7 separate regions of the Homo sapiens genome follow, and all the other regions are linked to region 2. Evidence: fine-mapped expression QTL. A gene starts in region 2. Each other region holds a variant in brackets. All regions are shown on one strand. Distances are from middle to middle. Region 1 has its middle 32 kb from the start of LITATS1. Region 2 holds the start of LITATS1 (lncRNA induced by TGF-beta and antagonizes TGF-beta signaling 1). Region 3 overlaps CDCA8 (cell division cycle associated 8). Region 4 has its middle 53 kb from the start of MIR4255. Region 5 has its middle 47 kb from the start of LITATS1. Region 6 has its middle 24 kb from the start of LITATS1. Region 7 has its middle 58 kb from the start of LITATS1.

The links.
Region 1: its variant is fine-mapped to the expression of LITATS1 in whole blood (TOPMed, PIP above 0.99).
Region 3: its variant is fine-mapped to the expression of LITATS1 in subcutaneous fat (GTEx, PIP above 0.99).
Region 4: its variant is fine-mapped to the expression of LITATS1 in whole blood (INTERVAL, PIP 0.98).
Region 5: its variant is fine-mapped to the expression of LITATS1 in whole blood (INTERVAL, PIP 0.90).
Region 6: its variant is fine-mapped to the expression of LITATS1 in substantia nigra (GTEx, PIP 0.99). The same link has a PIP of 0.9 or more in whole blood.
Region 7: its variant is fine-mapped to the expression of LITATS1 in thyroid (GTEx, PIP above 0.99). The same link has a PIP of 0.9 or more in unexposed skin.

What each region holds. Positions count from the first base shown.
Region 1 is chr1:37,440,072-37,444,137 of GRCh38, forward strand. No RefSeq gene overlaps it. Among named protein-coding and RNA genes, the nearest start is that of LITATS1, 32 kb to the right of the region's middle. The variant G/A (reference allele first, on the strand shown) is at 1,761.
Region 2 is chr1:37,472,205-37,476,270 of GRCh38, forward strand. LITATS1 (lncRNA induced by TGF-beta and antagonizes TGF-beta signaling 1) reads right to left here and starts at 2,239. Exons shown (of 3, transcript NR_038842.1): 1 at 1,940-2,239. ZC3H12A (zinc finger CCCH-type containing 12A) reads left to right here and starts at 2,376. Exons shown (of 6, transcript NM_025079.3): 1 at 2,376-2,425; 2 at 3,255-3,735. The coding sequence starts at 3,293. RefSeq lists silencers at 1,551-1,650, 2,111-2,570 and an enhancer at 3,221-3,320.
Region 3 is chr1:37,706,261-37,710,313 of GRCh38, forward strand. CDCA8 (cell division cycle associated 8) reads left to right here. Exons shown (of 10, transcript NM_001256875.2): 9 at 718-804; 10 at 2,062-3,459. The coding sequence ends at 2,106. Among named protein-coding and RNA genes, the nearest start is that of CDCA8, 16 kb to the left of the region's middle. The variant G/A (reference allele first, on the strand shown) is at 2,448.
Region 4 is chr1:37,212,858-37,216,923 of GRCh38, forward strand. No RefSeq gene overlaps it. Among named protein-coding and RNA genes, the nearest start is that of MIR4255, 53 kb to the left of the region's middle. RefSeq lists an enhancer at 447-1,002. The variant C/CA (reference allele first, on the strand shown) is at 1,831.
Region 5 is chr1:37,425,759-37,429,824 of GRCh38, forward strand. No RefSeq gene overlaps it. Among named protein-coding and RNA genes, the nearest start is that of LITATS1, 47 kb to the right of the region's middle. The variant C/CA (reference allele first, on the strand shown) is at 1,570.
Region 6 is chr1:37,448,139-37,452,204 of GRCh38, forward strand. No RefSeq gene overlaps it. Among named protein-coding and RNA genes, the nearest start is that of LITATS1, 24 kb to the right of the region's middle. RefSeq lists enhancers at 3,220-4,066, 3,822-4,066. The variant T/A (reference allele first, on the strand shown) is at 2,462.
Region 7 is chr1:37,414,089-37,418,154 of GRCh38, forward strand. No RefSeq gene overlaps it. Among named protein-coding and RNA genes, the nearest start is that of LITATS1, 58 kb to the right of the region's middle. The variant C/T (reference allele first, on the strand shown) is at 1,632.

The sequences.
Region 1 (4,066 bases), 32 kb before region 2:
TTCCAAGCTTCCCCTCAAGCAGATGACGGCTGGGGTAGAGGTAGAAGATTTGCTGAGGAGGCTGGGTAGGGGCCAGGCTCTGTGCTGTAATGATCCACCAGCCACTGGAACCACAGTACCTGTGACCCAGGATTACTGTGGCAGCCTTCTAACTGGTCTCCCCGTTTCTGTCCCTGCCTCTCCAACCCCTCTTCAATTTATTCTCAACACACAGACCAATGTGAATCCTTTAAAACATAAGTCAGGCCGGGTGCAGTGGCTCATGCCTGTAATTCCAACACCTTGGGAGGCCAAGGCGGGTGGATCACCTGAGGTCAGGAATTCAAGACCAGCCTGGCCAAGATGGTGAAACCCAGTCTCTATTAAAAATACAAAATTAGCCAGGCGTGGTGGTGCGTGCCTGTAGTCCCAGCTACTCAGGAGGCTGAGGCAGGATAATTGCTTGAACCCAGGAGGCGGAGGTTGCAGTGAGCCGAGATTGTGCCACTGCACTCCAGCCTGGGTGACAGAGCGAGACTCTGTCTCAAAAAATAAATAAATAAATAAAAATAAAACAAAAGTCAGATCATGTCATTTCTATGCTCAAAATCCTACCATGGTTTCCCATCTCACTTGGAGTTAAACCTAAGTTCTTAAAATGGCCTCCAAGGTCATGTTCTTCTCCCACTACCCATCCCCCTCACTCACTCTGACCTCAGACATAACTGATGTACTCTCACCAATCTGGAACCCTTCCTCCCAATACAATTCACCTCCTTCAAGACTATCGAATGTCTTCCCAATGATGCAACTCTGACCCAATACCCCGTCACACGCTCCCAATCCCCCTCACCCTGTTTTACTGTTTCCTCCTGTGCTTAACCTTTTAACATGCATTGTAGGCTGGATGCAGTGGCTTATGCCTGTAATCCCAGAACTTTGGGAGGCCAAAGCAGGAGGATCACTTGAGCCTGGGAGTTTGAGACCAGCTTGAGAACACTGCAACATAACCCCATCTCCATCAAAAATAAAAAAAATCAAAAAATTAGCTGGGTGTGGTGGTGCACAACTGTAGTCTCAGGTATTCAGGAGGCTGAGGTGGGAGGATCACTTGAGCCCAGGAGTTCAAGGCTGCTGCAGCCCAGGCAACAGAGCGAGACTCTGTCTAAATAAATAAATAAAATAATATTGAAACGATCGATTTTGTTTTGTATATTTTAACACAATTTTAAATTTTTAATTTTAAAAAAAAGCACTAGTCTGGGCAACATAGTGAAACCCCATCTCTAATAAAAATAGAAAAATGTGTGGTGGTGCCTTCCTATAGTCCCATCTACTGAGGGGGCTGAGGTGGGAGGATCACCTGCGCCCAGGAGATCGAGGCTGCAGTGAGCCGTGATCATGCCTCTGCACTCCAGCCTGGGTGACAGGGTGAGACCCTGTCTCAAAAAGTAAATAGATAAATAAATAAATACAAATAAAAGTTTTAAAAGAAAAAAAAACCCTCCAGAAAACGAAAAGCTTGATGCGACTCTGAAGTCTAAGGAGAGGTGCTTCGAAGCCCGGCATAGCGGTGGGTACAGGCCATCTCCTCACCCCCACAAGTTGTCCCCAGGCCACGGGTACCACGTGACGCTGCTTCTCTGTGCCCCACCTCACCATGTTGGGATCCAAGTGTGGCTCATATTTCTTCTCAGAGTCCATTTAAAATGACTTTGAACCCCCAAAACCCAAACCAAACATGGTCTATTTCTCCATGAGATTCTAAAACTGGCAAAAAT[G/A]TGGTTTAATTCCTCTCCACGCCCCAAGCATTGGCCAACAAGCCTGTCTAGAGTAACGAGAATGTTCGACATTCTATTTGACTAGTCTATTTGACTATTGCTTAGGGCCCAGGCTCTGTAAAATTAGATGTTTACTTGTAGAAAACTGGTAAGGGGCAAGTGATTTCCATCCACTAGAGAAAATAATCCCAAAAGGTTATGGTTTTAATGTCCTATAGGCTATCAACCAATTTCATATCTAATTTAGTATCTTATTCCATCATCATTTTTCATGCGAGTTTCTCATATTCTTCTTTGAACCACCTTGTTTAAAGATTCTCTCATTGAGCTAAATAATATTTTGATGGTGCTCACTGTGTATTGCATGAGAATTATGGTTTTAATATTTTGAGAATTATACTTTGGCATCTGGGGGATCCAGACAGGTGCTTGTATGTTCCACACACAGTCCTGGGGCCACTTCTCAACTCACTGTCTCACCGCTCCTTCTCCTGCCGGCTTCTCTTGCATCCCCTCCGCTCTCCCTCTCTCTGTCTCTCTCTCTCTCTCTCCCTCCACTCTCCCTCTCTCTGTCTCTCTCTCTCCCTCCACTCTCTCTCTCTCTGTCTCTCTCTCTCCCTCCACTCTCCGTCTCTCTCTCTCCCTCCACTCTCCCTCTCTCTGTCTCTCTCTCTCCCTCCACTCTCCCTCTCTCTCTCTCTCTCCCTCCACTCTCCCTCTCTCTGTCTCTGTGTGTGTGTGTCTCTCCCTGTCTGTCAGTCTTTCTCTCTCTCCCTATCTCTCTCTCTTTCTCTGTGTCTGTCTCTGTCTGTCTCTCTCTGTCTCTCCCTCTCTCTGTGTTTCTATTTCTGTCTGTCTCTTTCTCTGTCTCTCTCTGTCTCTCTCTCTCTTTCTCCGTGTCTGTCTGTCTCTCTGTGTTTGTCGGTGTCTCTGTCTCTGTGTCTCTCTGTGTCTGTCTCTGTCTTTTTCTGTCTCTCTCTGTCTCTGTGTGTGTCTGTCTGTCTCTGTGTGTGTGTGTGTGTCTGTCTGTCTCTCTGTCTCTCTGTGTGTGTGTCTCTCTCTGCCTGTCTCTTTCTGTCTGCCTCTTTTTCTCTCTCTGTCTCTTTCTCTGTCTCTGTGTGTGTATGTATGTCTGTCTCTGTTTCTGTGTGTCTGTCTGTCTGTCTGTCTGTCTCTCTCTCTGTCTCCCTGCTCCCCCACCCCCACCACTGTCTTTCCTCCTTCTGTCTTCATTTGCTGCAGTCAGGGTTCCTACACGGCTACACTGACAGCTACACAGTGTTCCCTTGGGACCCTGGACTGTACACCCATTCTCAGGGTCCCTATTGTATGGGAGAGCACAGCCACCAATGAAAGCTTCCTCAGGCCTCCCCACACCTGAAAATCCCTGTTCTTCTCTGCTCCCACCCAGGCCATAAAACCAGGTCACATCCATAGCAAACTCTGCTTGAAACGCAGTCATTATGAAACAGAATATTTAACATCTCAGTTTGCATTCCACCACTTACAGTTCTTCCAGGGCTCTTCCCAGACAAGCAGGTGGTGTTTGCCTTATTCCTATAAAGGACCTGTCCCAGTGATTTTATTAAAATGAGAGGAGAAGAGGTTGGGTACCGTGGCTCATGCCTGTAATTTCAGCACCTTGGGAGGCCAAGGTGGGAAGATCCCATGAGACCAGGAGTTTGAGATCAGCCTGGGCAATATGGTGAGACCACCATCTCTACAAAACTAAATAAATAAATTAGTCAGGTGTAGTGGGTCATGCCTGTAGTCCCAGCTAGTTGGGAGGGCAAGGTGGAAGGATCATTTGAACCCAGAAGCTTGAGGCTGCAGAGAGCTATGATCTCACCACTGCATTCCATGCTGGGTGACAGAGCAAGGCTGTCTCAAAACAAAAACAAAAACAGAAAACTTAAAAATGAAATAAAATAAGGGGTGTGCTTCAAGTTCACATGTGTCTACACCCCTAAAATTAACATGATTTCTAGAAAACAACTATCCCCAACTGAGCTTCATTAGGTCGGAAAAAAAAAAAAGACCCTCTTATTCAGATAACCTGCTACAATATTTTAAAACTGATTATTGCCATTATAGAAAAAAGCTGGCTGGGGCACAGTGGCTCACGCCTGTAATCCCAGCGCTTTGGGAGGCCAAGACGGGTGGATCATGAGGTCAGGAGATCGAGACCAGCCTGACCAGCATGGTGAAACCCCATCTCTACTAAAAATACAAAAATTAGCCAGGCATGGTGGTGCGCACCTGTAATCCCAGCTACTCAGGAGGCTGAGGCAGGAGAATCGCTTGAA
Region 2 (4,066 bases):
CGCTAGCTGGTGCCTGCCACCCAGTGAGCACTCTATAAATGGGAGGCATTATCTCTATGATTGATTAGTATTGTCATTATCATTATTAACCTGGACACATCACTTAATGTTTTTACTATCTTAAAGGTAGTTGCTATAGCGAATAAATGCTTAACATAACTGAGCTCTTCTCATCTGTAAAAGGGACTGTTGTGAGGTTAGGGGTGCCGCCGGCACCGCACTCAGCTGGAGTGACAGCAAGCATGTGAGGTGCCCAGCATGGGATGTGAGCTGGCATGCAGCAGGGGGCCTTGTGTTTCCTCTCTCCTTGGGTTGCCAAGCCCCTGGAGCTGCTGTGCCTGGGGAGCAGAGAAGGGGACACTTTGGGGTCTTCAAAGATGACCAGGCAACAAAGCAGGAACACCGCTAGGTAAGAGCAAGCAAGCCCAGAGGAACAGCCTCAGGGTCCAGATAGAGACGTACACGCCTGCCTCCCTGGGGTCTTTGGTGGCCTCCCGAACAAGCAGGTGTGGATGGGGAGATGGACTGCCTTGGAGAGAGCTACATGAGTTCCAGCTCCACCAGCCCCCAGAGCCTGAGCAGGTGACTTCACCTTTCTGAATCTCTGAACATCCATTTCCTCCACTGTACAATTTCATTAAGATACATACAAGAATATCCAAAGCACAGTCTTTGTAATAGAAAAAAAATCCTAGAAACAACATCCAACAGCAGGTGACTGAATAAGTAACCAGTGGTATATTCATAAAATGGGACACTATTCAGTAGTAAAATAAATTACAGGTATGCAGGCAATCAAAATGGATTTTTAAAAATATAATGCTGTATGAAAAAGGAAGTCACATAATTATGGAATGACTCCGTTTACACAAAGTAAAAAATAGCAAAACTATACAATATCCCACTTAGGGATGCATACAGAGGTGGTAAAACTACAAGAAAAAGCAAGAGAATGACTAGCACAATTAAAGTTCAGGAAACTAGTTCTTCAGGATGTGGGCAGGAGGCTGTGATGGGGGCACCCAGAGGGCCTCAAGGTACTGGCACTGGTCTATTTTTTAAGTTAGGTGATGGATACATGGCTTTTTTATTATTACTATTATTCTTTAAGCTGTACATGTACAGTTGTGTCTATGGTGTCTTTTACAATAAACAAGTATTTATTATAACACTAGCACTTATAGGATACATGCCTATGATGAGGTAGAGAGAATGTAACAAAGGACTGGCACATAGTAAGCACTGGTGGCATGTGGCTCTGTCCTCCAGCGTGTGGGCTCTGTGTTTTCTCTCTCTCTCTCTCACTCACACACACGCACGCACACACACACACACACATAGGAAGCCAGGCTCCCCTCTGCCCTCAGTCACTCGTGGTTCACAAAAATGGCAAATAATAGGAGCACTAGAATAGGAGCTCTCCATCCTGGTTCGAGTCTTTCCAGCTGGGGCAGTTTAGCCTTTGCAGAATTTCTCAAGGGTAACATCAGCATAATGACCTCTGTCTGTAAGCCCGTGAGTGTAAGCCTGTAAAGTGCTGTGCTCATGCGAGGGATCAGGTCTGACCTGGGAAACTAAAAGCATCTTCATGGAGCAAGGGTGCTCCTCCAGTGGGGGCGCTCAGTGAGTTCTGCGGTATGGGTGACAGTATTCTTGTGTGGACAGTATTCATGTGGTGATTGGGGTAAATGGCCCTCTTTTGCCTGGTTTTCTGCCTCGGTCATTGTGCATCTGCTGACTGAACCTGCCTTTTGGTCCTAGTAAAGTACAGATTTCAGGAAAAGTGTACCTGGCCCCGGGGGTGGCCAACCTCTGTGTGACGGCTTTAAGCACAGTGTGTCTTGAGGGGGCCTGACTCCATCTGAAAAGTGCCTGTCTGGATGTACCTGTCTATAACCATGGACCTGCCTCCAAGGTGCGTGGACCAACCTCCGCGTACCTGATTCACTCGATGCGCACCTGGCCGTACGTAGCTTCATCAGGCAGGGTGTACCTGTCAAGTTCTTAGGTCCGAGTGTTCGCGGCTTTACCTGTCCTGGTACCGCCGTCCGCACCTCGGTCAGTGCGTCCCCGGCAGGTGCGTGTACCTGATTCAGTCCGTGCTTATCTTGCGCATACGGGCCGTTCAGTGTCCCGCTCGGAGCTCGTCGCCGCCGCAGCCTTGAGGCTCCGACCCCCGCTTGGGCCCCGTCCGGCGCGCAGCGGCCGCGGGGGCGGGGCCGCGACGCGAGGAGCGGAGCAGGAAGGGGCGAGGCAGCCCCGCCCCCGGGGCGGTCTCCCGGGACGGCCCCGCCCCTTGCCCGCTTCCGCGTCAGTGCCTCACCACCACCTGCCCGCGCGCCGCCCCATATAAAGGCGCCGCCGTCCTTACCCCCAGGACTCGGCCCCATGGAGACGCCGCCGGCCGCCGCTGGCGCATGGCGGGGTGAGGCGCGGCGGGGAGGGTGCGGGCCTCGGCGGGGAAGCGGCAGGGAGCGCTCCGGCGGGGTCCGAGCCGAGCCGAGGGGAGGGGACGGGAGGGGACGGGAGGGGTGGAGAGGGGAGGGGACGGAAGGGTCGGGGTCCTGTTCCCCGGCCCGCCGGGCCTCAGGACCCCTCCAACTTTGCCCAAGTTGGGAGAGCCGGGGAAGAGCACCAGGTTCCTGATCGGGATCGCGGGCCGAGCAAGCGCGGGTCTCGGGCCGGGACAGCCTCGGCGTCACCAGCTCCCGGCAGCCAACCAAAGTTTTCCAGCAACTTTTCTCCCCACGGGTCACCCCAGAAACTTGCCCTCCCCGGCTCCGGGAGTCCGGCCATGGGCCTTGCGCTGCCTGGGCCTGAGCTCTGAGTGCCGGACGGGTGGGCGAAAGTGGTGGCCTCAGTGGGGAAGCCTTGGGCCCCGCAACGCACTTCCAGCCCCAGGATTCCATCTGAGAGCCCCGTCCCTGCCTTCTGGGTCCCCTGGGTTGGCGTGGGGGTTCGAGGCTTTACAGCTGGGGTAGTTCCAGTCTTAGTTCAGACTAAGTTCCGATCTTCGAGCCACCAGCTAACAGCTGGATGACCTTGAGCACGTTTTTAATGTCTGTGCCTCAGTTTCTCCCTTTATAGAATGGGAATGGGAATGCCTAGCTGGGAGAGCTTTTGAGAGGACAACCTGAACTAATAACACGATGCAGTGTGTAGTGCCACCAATCCCTCATCCTGCTGGATGTGGTTTTGGGAGGGAGGTTAGGAGAGAGCGCTATTCACCGTCCCTAACCCTGTTGGTTGTTCAGTAGGAGCTGTGGCGCGGGGCCTTCCAGGAGTCTGAGCTATGAGTGGCCCCTGTGGAGAGAAGCCTGTCCTGGAAGCCAGCCCCACCATGAGTCTGTGGGAATTTGAGGACAGCCACAGCCGTCAGGGCACCCCAAGGCCGGGTCAAGAGCTGGCCGCTGAGGAGGCCTCGGCCCTGGAACTGCAGATGAAGGTGGACTTCTTCCGGAAGCTGGGCTATTCATCCACGGAGATCCACAGCGTCCTGCAGAAGCTGGGCGTCCAGGCAGACACCAACACGGTGCTGGGTGAGCTGGTGAAACACGGGACAGCCACCGAGCGGGAGCGCCAGACCTCACCGGACCCCTGCCCTCAGCTCCCTCTAGTCCCGCGGGGTGGTGGCACCCCTAAGGCTCCCAACCTGGAGCCTCCACTCCCAGAAGAGGAAAAGGAGGGCAGCGACCTGAGACCAGTGGTCATCGATGGGAGCAACGTGGCCATGAGGTAAGTGTCACTTCTGTGGCCAGGACACATGAGGTTCGCATCTCTCCTGTGGCCAGGACACATGGAAGGATGACTGTCTCTGCAGCTCTGGTGGGCTGGAAGAAGTGACTTCCTTCTTAGGGACTGGTCTAGAGGGAGGGAAAGCCTTTTATGAGGCTAGGGTCGCGCTACTGGTAAGTGACAGAGGCAGGGTTCCAGCCCAGGTCCCTCTGTCCGCAGAGCTTACCTTATGCTGTGGGTCCCTCCCTGAGGCCAGCACTGTGTCTCCACTCCTCTCCTGTAATGTGAGGCAGGGCTGTAAAGGGGACCAGCCCGTGGGCAGCTGCTCACT
Region 3 (4,053 bases), 230 kb after region 2:
CCACACCCGGCTAATTTTTGTATTTTTAGTAGAGATGGTGTTTCACCATATTGGTCAAGCTGGTCTCAAACTCCTGACCTCAGGTGATCCACACACCTCAGCCTCCCAAGGTGCTGGGATTACAGGTGCAAGCCACCACACCCGGCCTCCATCTGTTCATCAACTAACATTTGCCCATCCGATTGTAGTAGGCCCAAGAAGTAGACATGGGGCCTGCCCTTAGAAAGCAGCTCAGTGGTCAAGATGGGTTTGCAATCATGGTACCTGTGATATGCGCAATAATAGAGATGTTAAAGGGTGGTGCAGAGGAGGGCACCACCGAGGTATGCGCTTAGTCTAGAACCCGGACCATGAGCTGTGCCTTCAGCTTTGTATAACTTAAGGGATTCTGAAGCAAGCTGAGCTCAGTGTCTCTGGGCTGCATGGAGCGAGTTGCTGACCTCAGCCCCTGTGAGGGGAGGACGGTTTGTTTCAGACATACTCTGCAGGGCATTTCTTAGATGATGTGCGTGCCTTTTGTGCCCAGGTAATCCAGCCTCCACCCTAGTGATAGTGCTGATGAAGTCATTGTCTCCTTAGAGCTAATATCCTTCCTGCCTGTCTTGCCACTTCTCCATCCCAGCCATTCCCCACCACTAAGTGCAGGATATCAGGGGAACCTAGGGGTTCCGGCCCTAAGGGCCATGGCCAGTTTAACCCACTCCCCTTTCTATTCAGAGCCTGCGATTATTGGCCAGTGACTTGCAGAGGCACAGTATTGCCCAGCTGGATCCAGAGGCCTTGGGAAACATTAAGAAGCTCTCCGTAAGTCTCATATTCATCTCCACACATAGGATGCCTCCAGTAGCTTTCTTGGGCTACCTTTATTTAGGATTGTCTTTTGGGCCTGGGCTAATACTTTCTACTTAAATTTGTGTTGTCTTCCTTCCCCCAAGAGATTTTGACTCTTACCCTACTTAGATAGCAGCAGTTCTGTTCCTCAGTTGATGTTGAGTTTTGTTCAATCCCAGGGTGCCTGCCACAGAAGTTCCACTGCAAAATCAAAATTCTGCCTCATTCAGGCAGTTAGTGCTAGGGGTATGTTAGGTCACTATTGGCCACCAGAAAGTGAAACCTAGAGTAGCTCAAGAATGAGGGTCGGGGCTTGTTATCAGGAATCTTACAGAATCAAAGAGCGAGCTGAACGGCCAAGCCTCTGGAGTGGTGGGGCCCATCAGCTGGGGCCTGTGTGCTCATTTCTCTCACACATCTTCATTCCTCCCTCAGCAGATAACCTTCTCCACAGGCTCCAGGTTCTGTGCTTACTTAACATTGTTTTGCATGTGGCTTTGAGTAACCACACCTCCAATCCCAACTTTATTGCTCTATTGCCCAATTGTTCAATTTCTTGTCTTGGTTTAAATTCTGAAGAGGGCCAGGCACAGTGGCACACACCTGTAATCCCTGCAGCTCAGGAGGCTCAGGTGAGAGAAATTGTTTGAGCCCATGAGTTCAAGGCTGCAGTGACCCATGATCGTGCTGCTGCACTCCAGCCTGGGTGACAGAGAAAGACCTCAGCTCTAAAAATAAAGTAAATTATCAATTTAATTTAACTGAAGAATGTAATGGCTCCGCCAGGGATGAACCTCCTTGGTCTGGTCAGCCATCATCTTGGGTGGTGGATGAAGCACTTAGTGTAAACATGGCAACCTTACCCTCATCCTTCTGTGGGGTCTGAAGGGTACATCCAAGGAAGGGGACAAGGCGGGGCTGGTTTCCTAAACCTGTCTTTCTGAACATAGGCCCAGTGCTGAGATCCCACACACACCTAGCCACCCAAATCTTGTGACTGTCATCCTCTAGCTAGATCTATTGCAATGTTCTTCTCAAATCTATGATACCTTTACTGTCTCACTTGAGTTGTTATTTTACTCCCTTGTTCAGATGAGAAACAGGTTCAGAAAGGTGAATTCATGTGTGATACAGATAGAGAATGGAGGGGCTCAGGCTGACTGTGGGAGGCCAAGGGGCAAGCCTGCCAAGTGACATCTTCTACAATGACCTCTCTCCTTTTCTTTTTAGAACCGTCTCGCCCAAATCTGCAGCAGCATACGGACCCACAAATGAGACACCAAAGTTGACAGGATGGACTTTTAATGGGCACTTCTGGGACCCTGAAGAGACTTCTTCCCTTCAGGCTTATTGTTTGAGTGTGAAGTTCCAGAGCAAGGAGCCATGTTCCTCTAAGGGAATTCAGGAATTCAGACGTGCTAGTCCCACACCAGTTAGGTAGAGCTGTCTGTTCACCCTCCCATCCCAGCTGATCCCAGTCACTGCTTGCTGGGGCCATGCCATGGAAGCTTCCCATCAGTCTCCCAGCTGAATCCTCCCTGCTCTCTGAGCTGCTGCCTTTTGCCTCCTGCAACTCAACATCCTCTTCACCCTGCCCTGCCTGCAGTTGAGGGGGC[G/A]AAGAAGAACCCTGTGTTCTCAGGAAGACTGCCTCCACCACCGCTACCCAGAGAACCTCTGCATCTGGCATTTCTGCTCTCTATGCTTGAGACCGGGAGGTTTAGGCTCAGATAAGTGAGCTCTGGGCCATGAGAGGGTAGGTCCAGAAGGTGGGGGGAACTGTACAGATCAGCAGAGCAGGACAGTTGGCAGCAGTGACCTCAGTAGGGAACATGTCCGTCTACCCTCTCGCACTCATGACACCTCCCCCTACCAGCCCTCCTCTTCCTCCTCCTCCTCCTCCTGTGGGAGGTGGTCAGTGGGACTTAGGGATCTTTCACCTGCTGTGCCCAGTAGTTCTGAAGTCTGCTTGTGGAGCAGTGTTTTATGTTTATCCCTGTTTACTGAAGACCAAATACTGGTTTGGAGACAACTTCCATGTCTTGCTCTTCTACCTCCCTAGTTAGTGGAAATTTGGATAAGGGAACTGTAGGGCCCAGATTCTGGAGGTTTTATGTCATTGGCCACAGAATAACTGTCTCTAAGCTATCCATGGTCCAGTGGTCCCTGCCAAGTCTGTAGACTTCAGAGAGCACTTCTCTCTTATGGGGTTCATGGGAACAGGGGTGGGTGTGACTTGCTTGGTGGCCTCATTCCATGTGTGCCTGTGCCTGGGGCATGGACTTTGTTAAGCAGAGTCAGCAGTGAGGTCCTCATTCTCCAGCCAGCCTCTCTGCCCTGGAGAATCATGTGCTATGTTCTAAGAATTTGAGAACTAGAGTCCTCATCCCCAGGCTTGAAGGCACATGGCTTTCTCATGTAGGGCTCTCTGTGGTATTTGTTATTATTTTGCAACAAGACCATTTTAGTAAAACAGTCCTGTTCAAGTTGTATTCTTTTAAGTTCTTTTATTCTCCTTTCCCTGAGATTTTTGTATATATTGTTCTGAGTAATGGTATCTTTGAGCTGATTGTTCTAATCAGAGCTGGTACCTACTTTCAATAAATTCTGGTTTTGTGTTTTCTTTTGTAATCACTGTTCATCCTGCCTGTCCTCTCCAAGCTGTGCTCTGTGGACTAGGGAGACAGCAATTGTGTGGGAGTCTTTGCACATCTGCTTTTCTCAGATGTGAAAACCTTTGCTTTGGGCAGATTCATTCTGATATCTGAAAGAGGGGCTTACTACAAGATCCAGAGCATCGGTACCTTCAACCCCCAGCAGAGCGCCCCCAACACCTTCATTCCATGAGCTAGAAATTTGTGTCTGGGAGGACAACACCTAGGGTCTCTGTAATTTCCCAGTATAGTAGACTTTTCTTGGCCAGGAACAAAGCGGGGCAAGAGTAATTCGGTGATCATGAGTCTCACTTCCCAAAGTTTCTGAGGCCCTGGCAGATCTGCCTTCCCGGAACTCTCTAGGCTGAAAATGATCAACCTAGAGCTAATGATGCAAGAGGGTTCTGCCTAAAAGAAGACAACCTGGGGGCATACTTAGCCAGGTTATTGGGTATTGACAATTTATAGACTAGGAATCTTCTGGTAGTGACAGCATTTGGAAGAATGGTTACTCAGTGCAAATAAGCAACCCAGACTATATGTCATCAGGCCTAAAGAGCCTGACACCAAG
Region 4 (4,066 bases), 260 kb before region 2:
CATCTCACACCAGTTAGAATAGCAATCATTAAAAAGTCAGGAAACAACAGGTGCTGGAGAGGATGTGGAGAAATAGGAACACTTTTACACTGTTGGTGGGACTGTAAACTAGTTCAACCATTGTGGAAGTCAGTGTGGCAATTCCTCAGGGATCTAGAACTAGAAATACCATTTGACCCAGCCATCCCATTACTTGGTATATATCCAAAGGACTATAAATCATGCTGCTATAAAGACACATGCACACGTATGTTTATTGCGGCACTATTGACAATAGCAAAGACTTGGAACCAACCCAAATGTCCAACAATGATAGACTGGATTAAGAAAATATGGCACATATACACCATGGAATACTATGCAGCCATAAAAAATGATGAGTTCATGTCCTTTGTAGGGACATGAATGAAATTGGAAATCATCATTCTCAGTAAATTATCTCAAGGACAAAAAGCCAAACATCACATGTTCTCACTCATAGATGGGAATTGAACAATGAGAACACATGGACACAGGAAGGGGAACATCACTTTCATGTGCGTCCGTGTGAAAAGACCACCAAACAGGCTTTGTGTGAGCAACATGGCTATTTATTTCACCTGGGTGCAGGTGGGCTGAGTCTGAAAAGAGTCAGCAAAGGGAGATAGGGGTGGGGCTGTTTTATAGGATTAGGGAAGGTAATGGAAAATTACAGTCAAAGGGGGTTGTTCTCTGGTGGGCAGGGGCGGGGGTCACAAGATGCTCAGTGGGGGAGCTTCTGAGCCAGAAGGAAATTCACAGGGTTAATCACTCAGTTAAGGTGGGGCAGGAACAAATCACAATGGTGGAATGTCATCAGTTAAGGTGGGGCAGGGCCTTTTCACTTCTTTTGTGATTCTTCAGTTACTTCAGGCCATCTGGGCGTATATGTACAAGTCACAGGGGATGTGATGGCTTGGCTTGGGCTCAGAGGCCTGACAATCACACTCTGGGGTCTGGTGGGGGGACAGGGGAGAGATAGCATTAGGAGATATACCTAATGCTAAATGACGAGTTGATGGGTGCAGCACACCAGCATGGCACATGTATACATATGTAACTAACCTGCACATTGTGCACATGTACCCTAAAACTTAAAGTATAATAATAATAATAAAAGAAAACCCTGCTCTTAGAGGGTTCATCATCTAGAAGTGAGAGGAAGATGTGAAAACAAAATTTTGTCATATGCTGTGGTCAAGTGTTTAAATGGAAGTATTAATAGGAATCTAAAGGAAATACATATGACTAAAATAAAAGAAAGTGAATTCAGCCCTGGGAGTAACAGAGACGTGCAAACAAGATGAGAGGCATTGTCTTGGAGCATAAACAATGTGGTCCTGGTTAGATACTGTACTTAAAATAATATTGTAAATATTGCAGATTTATGGGTTAAAGACTTTGCTGTTGTGGGCTAAGAATCTAACCAGTTCCAGACGACCAACTTTTAAACAGACTTTTGGAGTAGAGTTTCTAAATGTTCTTAAAGGTTCCTGTCAGGCCTTTGAGCCCAAGCCTGTATGTATACATGCAGATGGCCTGAAGCAAGTGAAGAATCACAAAAGAAGTGAAAATGGCCAGTTCCTGCCTTAACTGATGACATTACCTTGTGAAATTCCTTCTCCTGGCTCAGACACTCCCCCACTGAGCACCTCGTGACCCCCGCCCCTGCCTGCCGGAGAACAACCCCTTTGACTGTAATTTTCCACTACCTACCCAACTCCTATAAAATGGCCCTACCCCTATCTCCCTTTGCTGACTCTTTTTGGACTCAGCCCGCCTGCACCCAGGTGATTAAAAAGCTTTATTGCT[C/CA]AAAAAAAAAAAAAAAAAAGAATCAATTCAAAATGAATTATACAAAAATTAGCTGGGCATGGTGACAGTTTCCTGTAATCCCAGCTACTGGAGAGGCTGAGGCAGGAGAATTGTTTAAACCCTGGAGGCAGAGGTTGCAGTGAGCTGAGATCGTCCCACTGCACTACAGCCTGGGTGACAGAGCAAGACTTTATCTAAAAAAAAAAAAAAAAAAAAAAAATGGATTAAAGACTTAAAAGTAAGACCTGAAACTGTAAGACTACTAAAAGAAAACATAGCGGAAAAACTTCATGACATTTGTCCAGGCAATGATGTCTTGGACAGGATTCCAAAAGCTTAGGCAACAAAAGCAAAAATAGAGAAATGGGATTGCATCAAACTAAAAAGCTTCTGCACAGCAAGGGAAACAATTTACAGAGTGAAGAGACAACCCATGAATTGGGAGAAAATATTTGCAAACCACACATCTGATAAGCGGCTAATATCCAAAATATATAAGAAATTCAAACAACTCCATAGTAAGAAAACAAATAACCTGATTTTAAAATGGGCAAAGGATAAGAACAGACACTTCTCAAAAGAAGACGTATGAATGGCCAACAGACATATGAAAAATACCAACATCTCTAATCATCACAAAAATGCAAATTAAAACTACAATGAGATATCATCTTACAGCTATTAGAATGGCAATTATGAAAAAGATGAATGACAACAAGTTTTGGAGAGAATATGGAGAAAAGAGAACCCTTGCACACTATTGGTGGGAATATAAATTAGTACAGCAACTTGGGGAAATGGTATGGAGGTTCCTTAAAAAACTAAAAATAGAATTACCATATGATCCAGCAATCCAACTTCTGAGTATATGTCCAAAGAAATTGAAATCAGTATGTTGAAGAGATGTCTGCACTTTCATGTTTATTTCAGCATTATTCAGGATAGCCAAGCTAGGGCAGCAACTTAAGGGTCCATAAACAGATAAATGGATAAAGAATATGTGGTGTATATATATACCCAATGGAATACTACACAGCCTTTAAAAAGAAGAAAATTGTGTCATTCATGACTACATGAATGGACCTGGAGGACATTATACTAAATGAAATAAGCCAGGCAAAGAAGAAAAATACTGTATGATTTCACCTATAGGTGGAATCTTAAAAAGTTGATCTAATAAAAGCAGAGAGTTTAAAAGGTTGTTACCAGAGGCTGTCGGAGGGTGGGAGGGATGGGGAAAGGAAAGATGTTGATCAAATGGTACAAAGTTTCAGTTAGAAAGAGGAATAAATTTTAGTAATCTATTGTACTGCATGGTGATCACAGTTAATAAATGTATCATATATTTCAAAATTGCAAAAAATAATAGATTTCTAATGTCCTCAGCACAAAAAGAAATAAGTTGATAAGGCGATGGATATGTTAATTAGCTTGATTGGATCTCTCTATAATGTATACATAGATCAAAACATCACACTGTAGCCAGGCATGGTGGTGCCCACTGTAATCCCAGCTACTCAGGAGGCTAAGATGAGAGGATCGTTTGAGCCCAGGAGTTCACTACCAGCCTGGGCAACATAGTGAAAGCTTGATACTCAGTCTCCAAAAAAATAAAAATCACATTGTAACCCAATAAATACACAAAATTATTTTTCAATTAAAAACAATTTAAAATGTTTTAAAATTTTAATAAGGAACTTCAATTTAAAAATAAGGAAATTTTGACACATGTTATAACATCAATAAACTTTGGGGGCATTATGCTAAGTTATGTAAGCCAGTCACAAAAGTACAAATACTGTATAATTCCACTCATAGGCAGTACCCACAGCAGTCAAATTCAGAGAAACAGAAAGTAGAGTGGTGGTTACCAGGGGCTGGAGGGGAAGGAGGAATGGAGAATTGTTTAATGAGCATAAAGTTTCAGTTAGCAAAGATGAAAAAATTTTGGAAAGGGATGGTGGTGATAGTTCCATAACAATGTGAATGTACTTAATGCCACTAAACTGTACACTTAGAAATGGTCAAAATGATAAATTTTATGTTATGTATATTTTATCACAATTTTTCAAAAAATCACCTTGGAAAGAAAAGCCCTTCCAAGTCAGGGAAGAGAAGATGAGGAACCGGGGTGTAGATATGGCAGGATGTTTTGGAGCAAAAAGAAGCAGCCACGCTAGAAAACTTGCTCTTCCAGGCTGAACCATAAAATAATGCATTTTAATGTGTTTGAGAG
Region 5 (4,066 bases), 46 kb before region 2:
TCAAGTGATCCTCCTGCCTCAGTCTCCCCAGTAGCTGGGACTACAGGCGTGTACCACCACGCCTGGTTAATTTTTGTATTTTTGGTAGAGATGAGGTTTCGCCATGTTGGCCAAGCTGGTCTCAAACTCCTGACCTCAGGTGATCTGCCCACCTCGGCCTCCCAAAGTGCTGGGATTACAGGCATGAGCCACCATGCCCAGTCACAAGTTGCTCTTTAAAGACTGCACATGTATCACTCTCCCTCAAGGGCTCTGCATCGCCCCCAGGTATAGCCCAAACTCTTAAATGTAAGGCCTCCAAAGCCTTGCATGCCAAGGCCCCAGCCCAACCCTCTGACTTCCTCCTTTACCATCTCCCCATGACCTTCCAGATCCTTCTGTGACCTAGAGAAGTTATCTCCAGGCCCCACACTCTCTGGCCTCCAGTCTCCACTACACACCATCCCTGCCTGAAATACCTGAAACACCTTAGTCACCCGCAGCCTTCTCCCCTTCATCCCTTGGGTCTTGGCTGAGGCACCACAACTATCTGGCATCTTCACTGACTTCATTGACCCACAGCCTGAGTTAGGAACCCTTGCCCGATGCCCCTGGTACCCCACTGTCATGGCAGTACTGTGCATGGTAATCCTGTGTCTACATACCTAGAGCCCCACTTAACTACAGGCCCCATAAGGCAGGAGTTAAGTCTAATTCAGTGTCTGGCACAGAGTCTAGCACTGTTGAATTGAATTGAATCAAACTGAATTGAATTGAATTAAATAGAATGAACACCACAGCCCAAGACACTAACCGAGGCTGTGATCAGTGCCCTCACAGAGACCCAAATAGAGTCCTCTGAGGGGGTCAGAGTAGGGCAGTGTGCTTCCTATGGATGAGTCTGCAGAAACGTCCTAGACACATCCCCAAGGAGAAACACCAAGCCACACCTTCCTTAGTGGGACAGTTCATGAGGCTCGGGATCACGAACTCAGCAGCTCCCACTCAGTGGCATGCCTTACACCAACTCACTGCTTCTTGTCTATCTACTCCACCCTCCTAAGGGGGCACCCTCAGTAATCCCTACCCTCAGGTGCCTGTCTGCTCCCAGCTTCACACTACTTCTATTACAGGAACCCCCACCTGCACCTCTTTCACACACACACACACACACACACACACACACACGTACACACGCATGCACATCTCCAACTTAGCCCCAAGAGCATCTGAGCCTGAATTTCACACATTCCTAGAGGAAGAAATGGGGGTTCAATATTGGACCGTAAAATTGGTTTCAAAGGAGCAAAAAGGCCAGGTGCGGTGGCTCACGCCTGTAATCCCAGCACTTTGGGAGGCCAAGGCGGGCGGATCACAAGGTCAGGAGTTCCAGACCAGCCTGGCCAACATGGTGAAACTCCATCTCCACTAAAAATACAAAAAATTAGCCAGGCTTGGTGGCGGATGCCTGTAATCCCAGCCACTCGGGAGGCTGAGGCAGGAGAATCGCTTGAACCCAGGAGGCGGAGGTTGAAGTGAGCCGAGATCGTACCACTGCACTCCAGCCTGGGTGACAGAGCAAGACTCCAT[C/CA]AAAAAAAAAAAAGAAAGAGGAGGGAAGGAAAGAAAGAAAGAAAGAGAGAGAGGGAGGGAGGGAAGGAAGGACGGAAGGGAGAGAGACAGAGAGAGAAAGAGAGAGAGAGAGAGAGAGAAAGAAAGAAAGAAAGAAAGAAAGAGAGAAAGAAAGAAAGAAAGAAAGAAAGAAAGAAGGAAAGAAGAAAGAAAGAAAGAAAAGAAAGAAAGAAAGAAAGAAAGAAAGAAAGAAAGAAAGAAGGAAGGAAGGAAGGAAGGAAAGAAAGAAAGAGGGAGGGAGGGAAAGAAGGAAGGAAGGGAGAGAGAGAAAGGAAGAAAGAAAGAAAGAAAGAAAGAAAGAAAGAAAGACAGAAAGAAAGAAAGAAAAGAAAAGAAAGAGGCAAAAAAAATGGTATTTCTTACATACCTAAGTATGCAGATTGAGATTCCTATACCATAGCTAACATTTATTGAGAAACGTCAAGAAGCAAAACAAAGACCAGCAGAACTAAATTAAATAATAACAAAATAAAACAAAATCTGAAAGGCTGGGCATGGTGGTGCACACCTGTAATCCCAGTGCTTCGGGAGGGCAAGGCAGAAGAACTGCTTGAGGCCAGGAGTTCAAGACCAGCCTGGACAACATAGCAACATCCTGTCCCTACAAAAAGTGTTTTTAAAAATGAGCTGCGTGTGGTGGTATGCGCCTATAGTTCCATCTACTTGGGAGGCTGAGGCAGGAGGATCTCTGGAGCCCAGGAGTTCGAGGTTACAGTGAGCTACAGTTGTGCCACTGCACATCAGCCTGGGCAAACACAGTGAGACCCCATTTCTTTAAAAAACAAACAACAACAACAAAAACAAACAAACAGGCCGGGCGCAGTGGCTCACACCTATAATCCCAGCACTTTGGGAGGCCAAGGCAAGCAGATCACTTGAGGTCAGGAGTTCGAGACCAGCCTGGCCAACAATGATGAACCCCCCATCTCTACTAAAAAATACAAAAATTAGCCGGGTGTGGTGGTGTGCACTTGTAATCCCACCTGCTCGGGAGGCTGAGGCAGGAGAATCGCCTGAACCCAGGAGGTGGAGGTTGCAGTGAGCTGAGATCATGCCACTGCACTCCAGCCTGAGTGACAAAGCAAGACTCCATCTCAAAAAACAACAACAACAAAAAAAAAAAACCCTGAGTATTTTAATGTACCAGAAGTTCATATGCCAGTGAAGATATTCACCAAGTAGTTCACTGAAGGGGAAAATTGAAGGTTTTTTAATGCCAGAAAGGGTGAAGACAGTTTATTGTGGTTCTTTTACTCATAGATGAAAACTAGCACTCTACCAAGGGCGGGATGGAGGATGAGTCCAGTGGTTATACACAGCTGGACACAGCAAATCCCATTGCTCATAGGTCCAGGGTCTCCAGTTCAGTCCAGAAAGGATCTGGCACATGTCACATGGTGACAACAGCCCTCGGCTTTGATCCATCATAGGCGAGTGCTGCTGAAAGTGGATGTTCTCCCTTGCCCGGTGCTAACACTTCTTGTGCACTTACTATGTTTAAGGATTCTGCCTCCCTCAACCAGAGGGGCAGTGGTTAAGAATCCAGGCTCGGGGCCAGACCACCTGTATCCAATCCCCCATTTAAGACTTGAATGAGTCAATACCTCAGCTTTCTCTTCTATAAAATGGGTAATGATAGCAACTACCACATAGGATTGTCAAGAGGATTAGATGTGTTATTCTGTGAACAGCCCTTGGTAGATACAATCTTTTAAGAGATGACCATTATTATCTCATTAATCTTGACATCAAGAGGCAGATCGTATTCTTATCTCTGTTTTACAGATGGGGCACTGTGACTTGCTCACAGCCTACTTCCCACCATACGCAGCTGCCGTCACCACTGCACCCTGGGTTTCAAGAATTGGCAGTGTCGTGCCAGGGCTCAGGGTGGGGAGGACTTGCTTATGGTGGCCATTACTCCACAGTGATGCTGTGAGACGCTGCTATGGCTTAAATAGGGTTTGTTTGGCCCCACCAAGTTTCATCCCCAGTGTTGGAGGTGGGACCTGGTGGGAGGTGTTTGGGTCGTGAGGCTTGGTGCCATTCTTGTGGGAGTGAGTGAGTTCTCACTCTTAGTTCCCCTGAGAACTAGTTGTTGAAAAGAATCTAGCATCTCCTCTTCTCCCTCCCTATCTCTCTCCCCCTCTCGCTCCCTCTCCCTCTTCTGTCCCCCTCTCTCCCTCCCTTTCCCTCTTCTCTCCCGCTCTTTCTCTCCCTCTCCCCTTCTCCCTCTCTCTCTCCCCCATCCCTCTTTCTCCCCCTTTCCTCTCTCTCTCCCCCTTCCCTCTCTCTTTCTCCCCCTTTCCTCTCTCTTTCTCCCCCTTTCCTCTCTCTCTCCCCCTTTCCTCTCTCTCCCCCTTCCCTCTCTGTCTCTCCCCCATCTCTCTCACCCCTCTCCCTCCCTCTCCCTCCCCCTCCCTCTTTCTCTCCCTCCCTCCCTCTCTCCCTCCCTCCC
Region 6 (4,066 bases), 24 kb before region 2:
TCCTATATCCTTAGCACAGTTGGGTCTATATTGGGGGGCTGCTGATGTTGCCACAACTGAACCCCTCCACTTTCCCAACCTGCTCCTCCTCCAGGCTCTCCAGCTCAGAGAAAGGCCCCACCATCATCCCTGCCTTCCCTCCCCACCCCCAGCAGCCACAGTTCACCTTAACCAACCAGCCTGAAGTACTCAGCTCAGCCTGCAGGGATGCCAGCACACCTGGCGGGACTCTCCTTTCCCTCCCACCAGCCTCCAGAGTCAGTGTCCCTGAAGCCACCTGGAATCACATCACCTTGCTCTGAGCCTGCAGCAAGTCCCCATTGCCCTGAGATGAAGTCAAAGCAACCTGCCACTCTTCACAAGCCAGCCCCGACTGGTCTCTCCAGACTCATCTTCTTACCCCTACTTCCTTCCAGGCCAGATTCAGCCACCTCAATTTCTCAGCTCCCTCCCCACCCCGCCCTTGCCCGGACTGCCTCTTCTCCAGCCCTGTTCACTCTGCCCTTGCCAGTTCCACAGAGCCATTCTCTCCCTGCAGCGCCACCCAGGCATGCCCCTGCTCCTCAGATCTCCTGTGGTATCTTCACCATTTCTACCCCAAACACACCCTATGCCGGGTGACACCCACCCTGAGGGAGTCACAGCAGAGCAGGATTTCCATTAGTATTGTTTGCCGGAATGAAGTCATTCATCCAGGTATCCAGCATCTATGCAGCACTTGCCACACTCCTGGTGCGGTCTGGGCCCTGGGGCATAGCCATGATGAAGATGAGGCCCTCGTGAGTAGGACTCAGATTGCGTCAGAGGATAACTATCCGAATGAATGCTGGCCCTGGCAGAGGCCTTAGCTACTTCCTAATGCTTCTCCAGACAACAGTGTCCAGGACCCCAGGGCTCCAAGGCAGCCTCCCCCGCCCCTCCACATTCTCAGCCCCCACTATCGCCTGCCATCTGAATGTGCAAGGTAGATGTGCACACCAACCCCTGGGCATGGGTCCTGGGGGTAGAGCTGGGTGGGGAGCTGAGGCTGGCATCCCTGTATGTGCTAGTGCCCGACCTGGGTGCACACAGCTGCCAGGGAGTGGGGGGAGCCTCCACAACTGCCTCACCCGCGCACCTCCCCAGCCTCTGCTGGAACTGCTCCTGGCTCCTGGCGCACCGCGCTCCTGTTGTTTAGTTTTTCTGAACACCGAGTCTCAACCCCATGTTAATTGGTTTTACTCCACTCTTTTGTGCCACCCATTAAATGAGGAAATGCCACCCATAAAATTTTAATTTTAAAAGCCAACTTGTTTGTTTTATATTGAAATTCCCCGGGCAGCTCCAGCAGAGGGAAACAGACACATTTTCGTTTCATTAAAGCAACTTGAATGAAGATGAAAAAGAAGCTGAAAAATTAGATTTAAAAACAGAGAGTGAGAAGCATTTAAAGAAAATGAATGAAAGTGAGCTGCCACAGAAGGCGGTGGGGACCACAGCTCCATCTCTGCCTTCCCAGAGCCTCCTGCAGGGAGACAGTGGAGCAGAAGTGGGAAGCTGGGAGTGGAAGGGGACACTCTGGGTGCCCCCAGAAGGCTGGACCATGCACTCTCCTCTCACTAAAGCTGGCCCCCTGGATATCCTAGAGGAAGGAGGGTAGAGCATCCTGGACCCTGGGACCAGAAGCATCCTTCCTCCCTGGGGACAAACTGCATGGCGATGAGGCTTGCTGGCTTGGAAGCTGAGCCGTCTGGATGGTCCTGGCTCTGCCACTTACCAGCTCTGTCAAGGTGGGCAAGTGGCCTGTTTTGCTCTTCGTAGTGATGATCTGTAAAACAACCCAGCTTATAGGGTTGGTATGAAGATTAAATAGAATAGTACCTTGAAAACACTTTAAATAGAGCCCGGTATGCAGTAGGTCCATAACAAATGTTAACTTTGACTAATGACATCCGGCTGCCTCCCTTCCATTGCATACTCCTTACACATTGCCCCTGCTGAGTGCACCTCCCTCCTTCCCTTGCCCACACATCCCCCTCCCCCATACCCGCCACCCACTTCCTTTTTTTAGGAGGCAGGGTTTAGCTCTGTCACCCAGGCCGGAGTGCAGTGGCACAATCAAAGCTGACTGCAACCTCGACCTCCTGGCCTCAAGGGATTCTCCCACCTCAGCACCCCTCCCCAAGTAGCTGGGATCACAGGCATATGCCACCATGCCCAGCTAGTTTTTTTTGTTTTTTTGTAGAGACAAGGTCTCGTTATGTTGCCCAGGCTGGTCTAGAACTCCCAGGCTCAAGCAATCCTCCCACCTCAGCCTCCCAAAGTGCTGGGATTACAGGTGTGAGCCACCTCTCCGGCCTTTTTGGGTTTTTGTTTTGTTTTGTGTTTTGTTTGGTTTTGACGGAGTCTCCCTCTATCACTCAGGCTGGAGTGTCATGGCTCACTACAGCCTCAAACTCCTGGGCTCAAGCAATTCTCCCAC[T/A]TCAGCCTCCTGAGTAGCTGAGACTATAGGCACGTGCCAACACGCCCAGGTAATTTTTAAATATTTTTGTGGAGACAGGTTCTTTCTCTGTCGCCTAGGCTGGAGTGCAGTGGCACGATTCCGGCTCACTTCAACCTCTGCCTCCCAGACTCAGGTGATCCTCCCACCTTAGCCTCCAAAGTAGTAGCTGGGACCACAGGCTCGCGCCACCACGCCTGGCTAATTTTTAAAATTTTTTTTAGTAGAGAAAGGATTTCACCTTGTTGCCCAAGCTGCAAAGTTCCTTTTAATGATGTCCCTGAGCTGAAGACAGCTACAAGAGACTGCGGACGGTCTGATGAAAGGCTTGGGAAGCCTCATTCCTTCGCAATTCAATTCTTGTGGGCCAAACCAATTAAAATGTTCGTATAATCCTTCCAAGGAAAGCCAGCCTCCCTGGGTTCAAATCCCAGCTCTACCACTCACCACCTGTGTGTTCTTGGGCCAGTTTCTTCTGGGCCTCAGTGTCTCTATCAATAAAATGAGACTCACAGCTGTCATGAAGGTCACAAAAAACAAGCTCTGTGGAGTGCTGGGCAGGTAACCGGCCAGTGAGTGGCGGCTTTTACTTTCAGCATCAGTTGGAGACACAGCAGCAGGAGAGGGTGTGGGGGTCTGAAGCTGCGGAGGGGGAGGGCAGGGCAGGGGTTCCATCACAGAATGACCTCGTGGGGGTTCTCAGCTATTGCCCTAGGGTAACTTTTTTTTTTTTTTTTTTTGAGATGGAATCTCGCTCTGTTGCCCAGGCTGGAGTGCAGTGGCACGATCTTGGCTCACCACAACCTCTGCCTCCCGGATTCAAGCGATTCTCCTGCCTCAGCCTCCTGAGTAGCTGGGACTACAGGTGCACACCACGATGCCAGCTTTTTTTCTTGTCACCCAGGCTGGAGTGCAGTGGCACCATCTTGGCTCACTGCAACCTCTGCCTCCTGGGTTTAAGCGATTCTCCTGCCTCAGCCTCCCGAGTAGCTGGGATTACAGGCACCCGCCACCACATCAGGCTAATTTTTTGGTAGAGATGGGGTTTCATCATGTTGGCCAGGCTGGTCTCAAACTCCTGACCTCAGGTGATCCACCCGCCTCGGCCTCCCAAAGTGCAGGGATTACAGGCGTGAGCCACCAGCCTAATTTTTGTATTTTTAGTAGAGATGGGGTTTCACTATGTTGGCCAGGCTGGTCTCGAACTGCTGACCTCTGGATCCACCTGCCTCAGCCTCCCAAAGTGCTGGGATTACAGGCGTGAGCCTCCGCGCCCGGCCGCCCTAGGGTAACTTTTAATGACACTCCCTTTCATTCCCAAACGTATCCTAATCTGGATGACTAATTATATGGTCATCCTACTCCAAATCCCCCACGCCCAAGATGGGGCCTGGGAGCTGGCCCATGGTGTTGGGAAAGGGTTCTACTCCTGACCTGTTTTCCTTTCCAGACCCTTGGGATTGCCTAAGCCCTGGGTCCCAGCCCCAGCCCTAGCCCACTCTCAGGCCAAGGAAACTCATTCCCTCAATTAGCATTATAAAGCGGCAGGGAGGGGAAAGGCCTCGAAGGCGGGTGCCCGGAAGGTGC
Region 7 (4,066 bases), 58 kb before region 2:
TCTGTTGCCCAGGTCAAAGTGTAGTGGTGCAATCATGGCTTACTACAGCCTCAACCTCCCAGGCCCACCTCAGCCTGAGTAGCTGGGACCACAGGTGCATGCCACCATGCCCAGCTAACTTTTTAATTTTTTGTAGAGATGGAGTCCCATTATGTTTCCCAGGCTGGTCTCAAACTGCTATGCTCAAATGATCCTCCCACTTCGGCCTCCCAAAGCACTGGGATTACAGGTGTAGGCTACCATGCCCGGCCCAGAGTCTCTTTTAACCACTACCTAAGTTACATCCCTGCTGGCATGCTGCATTCCTGACACACTGTCTGGGCTACACTGCAATACACATACATGCACACACGCACATCCATGAGGGCTTGTCATGAATAAAACACCAGCAGCGGCATTTGGAGCCTTTATTCAGTGAAACAGACATGGATCCCTGAGTGACAAAGTGGCCAGTCTGATGGGAAGAAGTACAACCCCTGTCTTGGAGAACCTTCCAATCAGATGGAAGAAGCAGAGAAACTACATAGGTTCAAGCTGGGGGGTGTCATGAATCTGAAGGGAAGTATCCTATTGAACTGTTGACTCCCTGACTCCATTTCAGCTGGTCCTAAGAAAGCCTTTGGGGTTCCTGGGAGCTCCAGGATGAGCTCTCCCTGAGCCTCTCTGAAAGTGAAAGTTTGGAGAAAGCGAAGCATGGCATCTCAGATGATCACTTCTCTCACACTCCAGAGAAGGTGGGGGAGGGGGGAATCTGCTACAGCTAATTAGGAAAATGCATTAAGAACATAACTTACAAATGGCCCCATGGGTCCCCACATCTCATTTGCATTGAGCTGTTGTTACCTTATTGATTATATTAAATTAGGAGATAGTCACAACTGTCTGCAATACAACAATTACCATCATCAAACCAATTAGTATCAAATGGGATGTGGTCCCTGTCACTCCAGCGCTGCACTTGGCTATTTCCAACACCGTTAGCCCAGCCTTACGAAATAATTGTGTTTCTAATGAAATGACGGCAATCAGCAGAGATATTCCCAAGAGATCCACTCCTATTTCTATGGCCCTGTGTCAGGATAGCTTGAAACACAAGCACAGGCCGGGCGCAGTGGCTCACGCCTGTAATCCCAGGACTTTGGGAGGCCAAGGTAGGTGGATCACTTGAGGTCGGCAGTTTGAGACCAGCCTGGACAACATGGTGAAACCCTGTCTCTAGTAAAAATACAAAAATTACCCGGGTGTGGTGGTATGCACCTATAATCCCAGCTACTTGAGAAGCTGAGGCAGGAGAATCACTTGACCCTGGAGGTGGAGGTTGCAGTGAGCCGAGATCGCGCCACTGCACTCCAGCCTGGGGGACAGAGCTAGACTCTGTCTCAGAAAGAAAAAAGAAAAAAGAAAGAAAAGAAACACAAGCACAAGCAAAATGATACAACTGGTGTCTTCAGTAGCCAAGTCCTTATGGACAAACTACCCCTGGCCCCAGAAACCCTTCATCCATCAGTCACAGAATTTCATTCATAGGTAAGTTCACACACAATCCATGTGTGCAAACTTGGTTGTCAACACCCTCTCACAACTAGAATACACACATAAAACATGTTCAAACCTGCTCACACGGAGACACA[C/T]GCCTCTCCATGAACTTCATGCACACACTCCCACAGCTCACCCTTAAGCTGTGCCTCAAGGCACTCATACTCACCCACGCACCCTCACACCCTGTCATACCTTCTACACAGGTCTGCACCCAGCACACATGTACAGTTACACACACGATTGTTCACCCAACACATATAAGCAAGCACACGCTAAACAGCCACACACTTGTGCAAGGAACCAAGCGCAGGATATAGACTTATACACACACAGCCCAGCATCCGCATGGTGACTCATCACACTCCCCCACAGTCACACACAAGCACACACCAGTTTTGGAGACACTTTAGACAGAATCCAGAAGCCTGGCAGGAGGACCCTAAGACCGCTTCTCCTCGCTGCTCAGGGCCAGGAACCTCATTCTTCAGAAACCTCCGCACTACCACTCTACAACCCCCAAGACTGGCATACCTACCCCGTGGTGTAGGAGGAAGCCTTGTCCAAGATCACTGGCAGCTTTACAGTTCTCTCAACGATTGCAAAGGAGGCAAGCGAGGAGAGAAGGGCAGAAAACCAGATGCCTTGGGCTTTCCTGTGCAGAGGCAGCCTTTGCAGAGGAGCTTCCTCATAGCTTCTCCTTTGCGATGGTGTCTGTTCATTTGCTCACATGGCTTTACCCCAGTTGCCATTTATTGAGCACTTACCCTATGCCTGTCATGGAGATATCCCTTCCTTGACTCAATATTTCCTGGGTGCCTCCCATACCCTGGGTGCTGTTTTGGGTGCTCGAGATTCCACCATAAGCAAAACATAGTCCCTGTTCTTGTGATACAGTCTACAGGCAGAGACCGACCAGAAAGTTGTAAACCACTACATATAAATATGTAAGAGCTATGAATAAAAATAAAGCAGAGAGAACAGAGCGTGGGTTGCTGTTTTAGACAAGGAGGTCAGAAAGTTCCCCCTGATAAGGTGACATTTAAGGAGTGACCTGCCAGAAGGCGAAGCAAGCCATGTAAATACAGCCCTGTGTCACATAACAGCGCTTCGGTCATCCACGGACCACATACACAAACAGTGATCCCATAAGCCTATAATGGACCTGAAAATGTCCTATCACTAGTGACACGGTAGCTGTCATAACATCAAGCAGTGGAAATGTCATAGCACAACAGGTTACTCATGCCTTTATGGTAGGACTGGTGTAAGCAAACCTACTGCGCTGCCACAGTCGTGTAAAAGTCTAGCACAATGGGTGGGGTGCGGTGGCTCACACCTGTAATCCCAGCACTTTGGGAGGCCAAAGAGGGCAGATCACTTGAGGTCAGGAGTTCGAGACCAGCCTGGCCAACATGGTGAAACCCCATCTCTATTAAAAATACAAAATTAGCCAGGCATGGTGGCACATGCCTGTAATCCCAGCTACTTGCAAGGCTGAGGCACAAGAATCGCTTGAACCCCAAAAGCGAAGGTTGCAGTGAGCCGAGATCGCACCACTGCACTCCAGCCTGGGCAGCAAGAGCGAAACTCTGTCTCAAAAAAAATAAATAAATAAAAAAGTCCAGCACATACAATTATGTACAAGTACATAATACTTGAAAATAAACGACAATGTTACTGACTTATGTATTTACTATGCTATGCTTTTTATTGTTATTTCAATGTGTACTCCTGCTACTTATGAAAAAAAAAAAAAAAAAACTAACTGTAAAACAGCCTTAGGCAGGTCCTTCAGGAGCTATTCCAGAAGGCATTGTTATCAGAAGAGATGACAGCTCTATGTATGCTATTGCCCCTGAAGACCTTCCAGTGGGACAAGATGTGGAGATGGAAGACAGTGATATTGATGATCCTGACCCTAGGTAGGCCTAGGCTAATGTGTGTGTTTGTGTCTTCATTTTTAACAAAAAAGTCTAAAAAGAAAAAAAAAGAAAAGGAAATAATTTTATAATAGAAAAAAGCCTAAATTGACAGTTTTTACAAAAGGTATATATGAAAAGAAAAAAATCTTATATAGAATAAGGATATAAACAAAGAAAATAATTTCATATAGCTGTATATGTCTATGTTTTAAGCTATGTGTTATTACAACAGTCCAAAAGTTTTTACAAATCAAAAAAAGATAAGAGTAAAAATGTTACATTTTTATTATTGAAGAAAAGAAAAAAGTTTATGAATTTAGTGTAGCCTAAGTGTACGGGGTTTATAAAGTCTACAGTAGTGGGTCGGGTGCGGTGTCTCACGCCTATAATTCCCAGCACATGGGAAGGCCGAGGGGGACAGATCACTTGAGGTCAGGAGTTTGAGACCAGCCTGGCCAACATGGCGAAATCCTGTCTCTATTAAAAATACAAAAGTTAGCCGGGCGTGGTAGCGCATGCCTGTAATTCCAGCTACTCAGGAGGCTGAGGCAGGAGAATCAGTTGAAACCAGGATGCGGAGGTTTGCAGTGAGCCAAGATTCCACC